Regions from separate parts of the Homo sapiens genome. Here regions 2 and 3 are each reported to be linked to region 1. The links are microRNA targets in miRTarBase. Many come from high-throughput screens and were not tested one by one. Region 1 holds a microRNA gene; each other region holds the end of a gene's coding sequence.
Evidence for each region. Region 1 holds the annotated microRNA hsa-miR-3197 (GGAGGCGCAGGCUCGGAAAGGCG, at 2,126-2,148, shown strand). A microRNA usually pairs through its seed, bases 2 to 8, with sites in the 3' UTR of a target mRNA and lowers its output. Matches are read on the target gene's strand: a 7mer-m8 pairs with bases 2 to 8, a 7mer-A1 pairs with bases 2 to 7 and ends in A, and an 8mer does both.

Region 1 (3,252 bases):
TGGGAGCTGGCAGTGAGAGACAACAAACATCAGTGGAACATGGGATGGTGACTCTTTCTGGCTGAGCGCCACACGTTCCTACCAGGAATCTTCTATTAGTCATTTGGGCTGGAGAGTGAGATCCTTCCTCGCTCTCCACCGTCCAGGGTCATGTTTAATGGTGATGTTTGTTCTTTCCAAGGAGAGAAGGCCCATCTAATTGCAGGGCTTTTGTTTTCCTGAATGGACTCAGGAAGGCCATGGCTGAAAACGAGGGTGCTGAGAGGCTGTAAGGAGAAGGGAAGGAGTTGGAGGCTCTGGTGGAGTGAGGAAGAGCAGGGCAGTATCCCATGTCCTCTGATGTTAGGGGTGAGGTCAGGAGGGTGGGTCTCACCTTCTCCTTTCTCTGCCCTGCATCGGTCACCATGGTTTAAAAATCAATGCTATTCCATGAGAGGGCTGCCACTTATCATTTCAGTTCCAACACCTGGAAAGTAAAATTATTGTCTCCCAAATCCACCCAGCACCATAGGCTTGAATAGGGATCATATGCTCTAAGACCATTCATGAAAACAGAGACAACCAAGGAGACAGTCACCCAATGCTGTCCCTTCAGCTTGCATTATTTTCTGACAAGACAGCTCTGCCATCCATGGAAGCCTGTGTGCTCCTCCATCCCTGGATCTTTATGCATCCTTTTCCCCACAAACCCAAACCATCCCTCTTAAAATGAAAAGCTTAGGAATACTCACCCTAGACTGAGTCACGCGTTTCTTGTACAAACTTTAATTAGACTTGATTTTTTAAAAATTTCCCTTGTGGCTTTTAATTATTAGACAGAGCAAATGTCTCTAGTATTAAACTTATATGTCACATAGCCTCTTTATCAATGGCCCTAATACATTTCATGTGCTTTTCAGAAAGATTATATTCTTCCCAGAGCTGTCTGAATGTCTTTTTGAACCCCTCAAGACTGGACACCAAGGAGTATAAATAATCATTTTAAAAAAAATCACATTCCCTCCACAACCTTGAATCTGAAACGTGAATATATGAATAGAAGGGCTCTGGAATAACTATGCAGATTTATGGAGAATATCAACTTAAGTTATATCACGGGATCCAGCTATGCCTTTCTTCATGGAGTTGGGGATTTGTTAAAGTTGAGATATAGTTTGGGGGAAGTGTGATTTATGGTTAAAGTCATCTGAAAATCAATACATTTGAAGATCTCTGACATAAAGGTCCCTTGCAGAGCTAGACGTGATTCTAAAATTGGGAACACAGGAATAAAAATCAAATCTTGAGTAGAAGTAGCTGAAAATTGCAGTGATTCGGGGAAGCTTGGCTTCTAACTCCCCACTGTTTGAAGATGGGCTTGTTTGTTTTTTAAAACAGCCAACATAATTCAGCTGGAGGAGGTACAAAGAATTTTCTATTCCTTGTTTCTGTAGAAATCGATGGACTTTAGCTTGTCTAATTGTCCCCCCTGCCTTTAGTATCTAAAATAAAATAACCCTCGTTGCTTGCATTACTCAACGCATTTCTGCGTCTTGGCGTCTATGGCTAAACGAGTATTAATTAGACAGTCCGCAGAGAGCTGGCTGGGGATAGAAGGGGAGGTGGGGGAGAAGGGCAGGGATCACAGCAGGGTGGACTCGTGGCCCTGATTTGGGATCCTGACAGCAACTTACTAGGTGGCCTGAGGGCTGGGTGCCAGGGGAGGCAGCGGGTTCCAGTAGCATCTGACCTGCATTAGGGACAGGGGCGCGGCGGAGGGGGCGAAGGGGGCGGGGGTGGGGGGAAGGTGGCTGGGGTGAAGCCCAGCTTCGCAGCTAGCTGTGGGCAACAGAGGGAGTAAGGGGGGGCAATGAGGCTGGGGCCAGGCGCCAGCAGCAGCCACGCCCCCCACCTCCCCCGATTTTTAGGGAAAATTCTCCAAAGCTCTCGCATCCTCCTCTGCCTCCTTCCACCCTCCACCCTCCCAGCCTCCACTGAGACCTCTTTAAAACCACCCAGGGGCCGCCGGGGGATGAGGCCGGGGAACGGGCTGGACTGAGGGCGGGGGCTCGGGGGCAGCGGACGGGAAACGCCTCGAAAGCAGCCAGACCCGGCGACTGAAATGAGGCGGAGGAGCTTGGCGAGGGGAGGCGCAGGCTCGGAAAGGCGCGCGAGGCTCCAGGCTCCTTCCCGATCCACCGCTCTCCTCGCTGACCTCCGAGTCACCCCCGGAAGCTCCCGCCACTGCCGGGCGAATAGACCCCCGCGGACCCCCAAGCGCGCGGGGCCGGGGCCCTAGTTCAGGCCCTCGCTGCCCCTTTAAGGGTTCTCGAAACTTTCCCCCCGGTATCAGATGAGCCTCGTCACATCCGTTGGCCGTGGCCGCTGGGGCGCTTTCCGAGGAAATTCGGGACTCGAGTTTCCCGGGGAAGAGGCGCGGCCTGAGCCCGGCGAGGGTGGGGAGGGCAGGCGCAGGTGGACCCCGGCGCCCCCCGAGCCCCGCTGTGACCTTGGCCGCGGGGGAGGGGCTGGGCCGCTGCGGGGCAGTCGCGGCCGCCAGAGGGGGCAGCGGAGAAGAACTTGCCCAACTTGGCGGCGCGGGCTGGGGCGGCTCTGCGCCTCCGCGCCCGCCTCCCCGGCCTCCGCCTTCTCCCCTCCCGCGAGCCTCCTCCCCTCCCGCGAGCCTCCTCCCCTGGGCCCTCCTCCCGTCCTCCCCGCCGCCGCCGGTCCCGGTGCGCGCCCATCCCTGCCCGCAGCCCCGCGCGCCGGCCGAGTCGCTGAGCCGCGGCTGCCGGACGGGACGGGACCGGCTAGGCTGGGCGCGCCCCCCGGGCCCCGCCGTGGGCATGGGCGCACTGGCCCGGGCGCTGCTGCTGCCTCTGCTGGCCCAGTGGCTCCTGCGCGCCGCCCCGGAGCTGGCCCCCGCGCCCTTCACGCTGCCCCTCCGGGTGGCCGCGGCCACGAACCGCGTAGTTGCGCCCACCCCGGGACCCGGGACCCCTGCCGAGCGCCACGCCGACGGCTTGGCGCTCGCCCTGGAGCCTGCCCTGGCGTCCCCCGCGGGCGCCGCCAACTTCTTGGCCATGGTAGACAACCTGCAGGGGGACTCTGGCCGCGGCTACTACCTGGAGATGCTGATCGGGACCCCCCCGCAGAAGGTAGGGACCCCCGGCTGCTGCCGCGGGCTTTTCGGGCTCGTTGGAGGGAGGGGGCTGTCCAGAGACGCCTCCACGCGGCTTAGCGTCGCCCCCAAAGCAGCAGCTGTCCCCGCAC
Region 2 (3,252 bases), not on the chromosome of region 1:
GTGTCTGCTCATGCCCCTTGCCCACGTTTTAATGGGATTATTTGTTTTTTTCTTGTTGATTTGTTTAAGTTCCTTATAGATTCTGGATATTAGTTCTTTGCTGGAGGCAGTTTGTTAATATTTTCTCCTATTCTTTAGGCTGTCTGTTTACTCTGTTGATAGTTTCTTTTGCTGTGCAGAAGCTCTTTAGTTTAAGTAGGTCCCATCTGTCATTTTTTATTTTTGTAGAATGTACTTATTTTCCCTGACTTTTCAGTCAGAATTTGCAATCAAGGGGAGCATAATGGATCCAGTGGATACCCAGGATAAAAGGGTGTAATTGCCTAGAGAATCTTTTCTGTTAAATATCATTCATCTTACTTCCCTTATCCCTTTGCCTCCAAACCTGTTTCCAAAACAAAAGCATTCCTCTGAGGAAGTGCTTGCACGGTGATAGGTGATAGATAGCCCATGTGGGGAGAGGTTGGGAGAATCATGCAGAAGAGAAACCGAGAGAGATGGAAACGGCATTCTGGCCAGCCACTTTTCTTGTAATCCATCACTGTTTGCCCTGCAGTAGCGGGCTGGTTGAGCAGAGCCCCATAATTAAAATTCTCTATTCTAACCTGTCCTCACATCTTTAAGATGATTCTTTGAGAAGTCTGGGTTAAAAGGTTTAAGGAAGAAACCAAACTGTGAGTTTTGGGGGAAAGGATGATCATCACCTTTAAAAGAACTTTTGGTTTCCAAAGAAATATGCATAGAACTAAATGCACAGATTTTCTTTTCCATTTTTATTTTTTTAGCCAATTTCCAAAGCCCTAAATCACATTTTCCCTTAGACTGAAACTCTAGAAAAACATTATTATTATTATTATTTATTATTTTTTGAGACAGGGTCTTGCCTCATTGCCCAGGCTGGAGTGCAGTGGCACAATCTCAGCTCACTGCAACCTCCACCTCCAGTGTTGAGGCGATTCTCCTGCCTTGGCCTTCCAAGGGGCTGCGATTACAGGCCCGTGCCACCACACCAGGCTAATCTTTGTATTGTTAGTAGAGACGGGTTTTACCATGTTGGCCAGGCTGGTCTTGAACTCCTGACCTCAAGTGATCCGCCCACCTCGCAATCCCAAAGTGCTGGGATTACAGGCGTGAGCCACCGCATCCGGCCTAGGAAGACATTCTTATCTTCTCTAGTTCACCCTCTACCACCGTCTCCTCTCTGGAGAGCCCCCTGAATGGCTAAATAAAACAGCTAAACCACCTTTCTTCCCCCTATGACCCTGCCCATGCAACGCCTCCTCTGAGTGATTGTTCCTATCCCATCTCCTTGCAAAGGTAGTAGAAAGTATTATAGCTGAGGTTCAGACATATTCATTTGTTACCCATATACTAGTCAGAGAAATTAAATTATTTGATTGAATGAGTTCTGCTTCAAGCGACAGAAGAATGTTCCACCCTCCAGTAAATGTCACAGAGGACTAATTGAGTTTCCAGCTCCTATCCTGAAAAGCGAACAATCAAACAAAAAATAGAAGACACTGTGATACTCAGAAGCTCATTACATACATAGAGGATACTTGACCTCTCTATATATATACAAAAAAATCTCACAAATGCACAGTTGGATTATTAATAGTGTTATCTCACAGGTGTAGAATCAGGTAACCTTTACTTTTGTCTTAGTATTTTCATATAACAAAGATGTATCATGTAAAAATATCAGGAAAAATCAATCCATTTTCAATCTGATAGAAAAAAGTATTGTTTTAATACCAAGCATTAGCTTTTTCTTCTGTAAACTATTTTCAAGAGTTTAGGACAGGCCGGGCACAGTGGCTTACACCTGTAATCCCAGCACTTTGGGAGGCTGAAGTAGGCGGATCACCTGAGGCCAGGAGTTTGAGACCAGCCTGACCAACATGGCGAAACCCCATCTCTATTAAAAATACAAAAAAAATTAGCTGGGCGTGATGGCACGTGCCTGTCATCCCAGCTACTCAGGAGGCTGAGGCACAAGAATCGCTTGAACTTGGGAGGCAGAGGCTGCAGTGAGCTGAGATCACGCCACTGCACTGCAGCCTGGGCAACAGAGCCAGATCCTGTTTAAAAAAAAAAAAAAAGTTTAAGACAAAAAAGGAAAGCTCACTTTCTATCAACAATAGCTTCCAAAAGACAATAACAGGGCTGAGTGTGGTGGCTCATGCTTGTAATCTCAGCACTTTGGGAGGCCGAGGTGGGCAGATCACCTGAAGTCAGGAGTTCGAGACCAGCCTGGTCAACATGGTGAAACTCTGTCTCTACTAAAAATACAAAAATTAGCCAGGCATCATGGTGGGCGCCTATAATCCCAGCAACTCAGGAGGCTGAGGCAGGAGAATCGCTTGAAGCTGGGAAGTGAGCCACTCAACCTCCGCCACTGCCCTCCAGCCTGGGCAACACCGCGAGACTCTATCTCAAAAAAAGACAATGACAGTAACTCGAAAAGAGGCTCCTCTTAACTTCTGCCACCCTAACCCATAACTCCACCCATTTCTCCGCTGGACTTACCTCATTCACAGGGATCAGAATACTGAATTGTTGCCTGTTCATCTGTGAAATGAAATAAGTCATATTATTACTTTGAGGGCCTCCTATATTCAGAGGGAAAATGCTTCAGAAAAGCTACTGCTTGAGCCCCTTCCAGAGAATCTCTACAGGTTATGAGCATATTCAGAATTACAAGAAAGTTTCAATCACTAATATTTGTACATTGTGACAAACTATTAATCATACCAAAAATAATAGAAATAGCCCTTTGAGAACAATGGTTCACATTGTTCTCCGATCACATAAAATGTCTCTAGTGTACGCAACTTAAAAATGGCACACAACTGAATTAAAATATTTTAGGAGATTAGATAATTTAATTATGTGCTACTTGGCTTGGGAAGGAGTATTTGTAAAATTAAGAGAGAAGCCATGAAGAATGAGGCAGAAGTAAGTTGGGAGATGCAGGTAAGATCTCAGATCTCATTTCAGCTCAGCCCTCTCACCTGGTAGGTAGTAGTCATAGACCTTGATGGTTGCTGGTTTCAAGTTGGTGACCAGCACACTTTGGCTGATGGTGAAGGTGTAAGTCTGAGTGTTCTTAATGAGCTGTGGGGAAGACAGATGAAACAGTACCTTAGAAGTAAAATGAAAATTACACTGTATGCAATGTGGAATAAAAGACCCTTGCTGTCTTCATGTAGATTTTCTGAAGCCCCGCCAGGCACGGTGGCTCATGCCTCT
Region 3 (3,252 bases), not on the chromosome of region 1:
CCAGAAAGAAGTAGAAAAAGAGAGAGAAGCCTACCGTCGGAGAACTGCTGCTTTTCAACAGGATCTGGAAGCCAAGTACCACGCCATGATCTCAGAAAATCGGCGTGCTGTCGCTCAGTTGTCCTTGGAACTCGAAAAGGAACAAAACAGAACTGCTAGTTACCGAGAAGCCCTTATCTCTCAGGGACGCAAGTTGGTAGAAGAAAAGAAGCTTCTGGAACAGGAACGGGCCCAGGTGATGCAAGAAAAAAGACAGGTGCAGCCTTTGAGAAGTGCGTATTTGAGCTGCCTGCAAAGGGAAGAAAACTGGCAAAGGAGAGCCAGGCTTTTGCTGAAAGAATTTGAAGCTGTTCTCACAGAAAGACAGAATATCTACTGCAGTCTGTTTCTTCCTCGCAGCAAGCGGCTGGAGATAGAGAAGAGCTTACTGGTGCGAGCGTCCGTCGACCCCGTCGCCGCTGACCTAGAGATGGCAGCCGGTCTCACCGACATATTTCAGCATGATACATACTGTGGTGATGTCTGGAACACCAACAAACGCCAGAATGGCAGACTCATGTGGCTCTATCTCAAATACTGGGAACTCGTTGTCGAACTGAAGAAGTTTAAGAGAGTAGAGGAAGCCATACTAGAAAAGTAAGACAAGAGTGAAATCAAACTGCTTTTAGTGACTCGAGGCCAGGCAGTCATGCGCCTTCTGGGTCTCCGGCGTCTTCCGTTCCCGTGCTGCCCGTGTCATGGCCACACCGTCACCCTTCAGCAGCGACCTCCACTCCCGCCACCGTCTGAGCAGAAGTGCACCGAAGCCTCAGAGACAGAGGGTCTCCTCCCGATGCTCTGCCGCTGTTGGGGATATGGTTTCTTGAAGCATTTTTAGGCTGCCAGTATTGTATTAAGCAGAACAGTATAACCTCGTATTTTAGCTCCAGGGTAAAAATGGTTTTTTAAAAAGTCAAATACAATACTGGTCCTTACCACAAGTAATTTTCTGTCTGTTTCATCACTCCCTAAATACTTTCTCCTCAAATTATTTTTCTCTGTCACCAGATTACATTAAGAATTTGTCAGATAATGTGTAGAACTGCATAACAGGTAATAGGAAGTAGTAATATTATATTATCAAGGGTTTATATTTTAAAGATCTCTCTCACTCCATAAAGGGGAAATACCAAGTGTTTCTTGTATCCAGTTGTTACTTAATGTGTGTTTGTTGTATGCAGTTGTTACCTAATGTGTGTTTGTTGTATGCAGTTGTTACCTAATGTGTGTGTGTTGTATGCAGTTGTTACCTAATGTGTGTGTGTTGTATCCAGTTGTTACCTAATGTGTGTTTGGAATTTGGCTTGTGTCTGTATTCAGCAAGCAGATACTTATTAGCAATGATATATACTCAAAATACTTGCCATTTATGAGTAATAATGCCACTTTTTGTGTAATTCTTCACTCTTTACAAAATATTTTTATATGTATTATCTCATTGTTTACCACAGCCAACAAGGTAGACAGGCACTTATCACCCCATGTCACACATAGCTACTGGGAATTGAGCCTGTATACCTGTTCACTCATGGAATCCTCAGTCGAATCCTGTGAAGTGAGTATTACTATTACGCTTTGCGGAGGTGCCCCAAGGCCAGCCCCCAGGTGCGTGACCTGCTGGGAGATCTCACAGGACTCAGCACAGGGTTGGACTCAGCACAGAGCAGAATCAGCAAAGGGAGAGGGTGTGTGGGTGGCGCTCAGAGGAGCCACGTGTGGACACCCCAGGATCCACTCCCTGGAGTCATACAGGACACACCTAACTATTAAGAATAAGCTCACTGGAGACTCAGCACCTGGGGCTTTTGCTAAGGGCTGGTCATGTGGTACCCCCTGCCTGGCCTGTGTGGGAATTCCCCACTTGTCCAGAAGGAGGGTGGGTTTGGTGTGGTCTGTGCCGTGAGCACAAGTACTGTGGTCACAGAGCCACGCGTAGGAGTTAATGGTGCTGGGAAGTCTCCCAGAATCCGAGTTCCCAGATGTCAGTCAAGGGCCAGCCTTGCACACAGGCCCTGGTAGGACACAGCCTTGGGCCTGCTGTGTGAATTCGTCACCACGCACCTCACTTTACGGAGATGTGGAAGAGCTAACCTGCCTGAGGTCACGCAGGTAGTAGTGTTGGAGCCAGTCTGAGCCCGGGCACCTTTTCTCCAGAACCGCGAGTAACCTGTGTGCAGTGATTTGATAGTGTGTGGCCAGGCAGGAGCGGGAGCAGGTTGTCCATCTGCTTTCAAGGGCCATGTTCTCCCCTCCTGCCCGTCTGTACGGGAGTAGGAGCAACTGTTAAAAATCCTAAGCTCATAGAGCCCACGTGGCAGTATGAGAGCCACTATTCATGGAGTGCATGTTCCACCCTGAGCTGTACACGCTTTACACGCATGCGTTGTTTGAAATCCGTGGAACCCCTTGAGCGCGGCGGAGGCGGGCTCAGAGCCAACATGCGCTGCCTGCAACAGACACGGGCCCCCTGCCATGCTCTGCTCTCGGCACCCACGCCCTGCTAAGGGTGCTCAGATGCTTCACCCAGGCAGGAGTGCAGTGGTGTGATGGCTAAGGGTGCTCAGATGCTTCTCTTCTTCAGTGGCTGCTAGCGTGCCTCTCTGCTCTACCACCATCGCTTTATCTGAGAAAAAGTCACTTTTATTTTCATTTTTTATTTTTTTTGAGAGGGAATCTCTGTCACCCAGGCAGGAGTGCAGTGGTGTGATCTCAGCTCACTACAGCCTCCGCCTCCTGGGTTCAAGCGATTCTCCTGCCTCAGCCTCCTGGGTAGCTGGGATTACAGGCGTGCGCTACCACACCCAGCTAATTTTTGTTTTGTTAGTAGAGACGGGGTTTCACCATGTTGGCCAGGCTGGTCTCGAACTGCTGACCTCAGGTGATCCACCGCCCCCACCTCGGCCTCCCACAGCACTGGGATTACAGGTGTGGGCCACGGCACCCGGCCCCTAAAAAGTCATTTTTTCGGTAAATCTGGACAAAACTCTTCCTGTTGTTGTTTGTACTTCCTGATGCATCAAGACCCTTGCCTAAAGAGCGGTGCAGGCTCCATTCCTGCGGCAATCCGGTCTGCTGGGTGTCCCTGTGTGAACCACTCCACGTTTGTCTTTAAATGAAGAAAACACAGTCAGCTGCTTTGTAGGTGAATGATTTTCGAGGCAAATTGTTAATCCTCATCCTGTTTCTAATGTCCAGTGTGCTGTCAGCCTAGCT

Region 2: miRTarBase lists A2ML1 as a target of hsa-miR-3197. Seed matches in the 3' UTR shown: 7mer-A1 at 949-955.
Region 3: miRTarBase lists CCDC127 as a target of hsa-miR-3197. The part of its 3' UTR that is shown has no 7-base or 8-base seed match.

Annotation. Positions count from the first base shown.
Region 1 is chr21:41,165,439-41,168,690 of GRCh38, forward strand. It overlaps MIR3197 (microRNA 3197), which reads left to right and starts at 2,119; the gene lies at 2,119-2,191. BACE2 (beta-secretase 2) reads left to right here and starts at 2,722. Exons shown (of 9, transcript NM_012105.5): 1 at 2,722-3,137. The coding sequence starts at 2,826. RefSeq lists a silencer at 2,281-2,730.
Region 2 is chr12:8,874,290-8,877,541 of GRCh38, reverse strand. It overlaps A2ML1 (alpha-2-macroglobulin like 1), which reads right to left. Exons shown (of 36, transcript NM_144670.6): 34 at 3,015-3,117; 35 at 2,530-2,571; 36 at 755-1,484. The coding sequence ends at 2,531. Among named protein-coding and RNA genes, the nearest start is that of PHC1, 39 kb to the left of the region's middle.
Region 3 is chr5:202,685-205,936 of GRCh38, reverse strand. It overlaps CCDC127 (coiled-coil domain containing 127), which reads left to right. Exons shown (of 3, transcript NM_145265.3): 3 at 1-3,252. The coding sequence ends at 640. Among named protein-coding and RNA genes, the nearest start is that of LRRC14B, 13 kb to the right of the region's middle.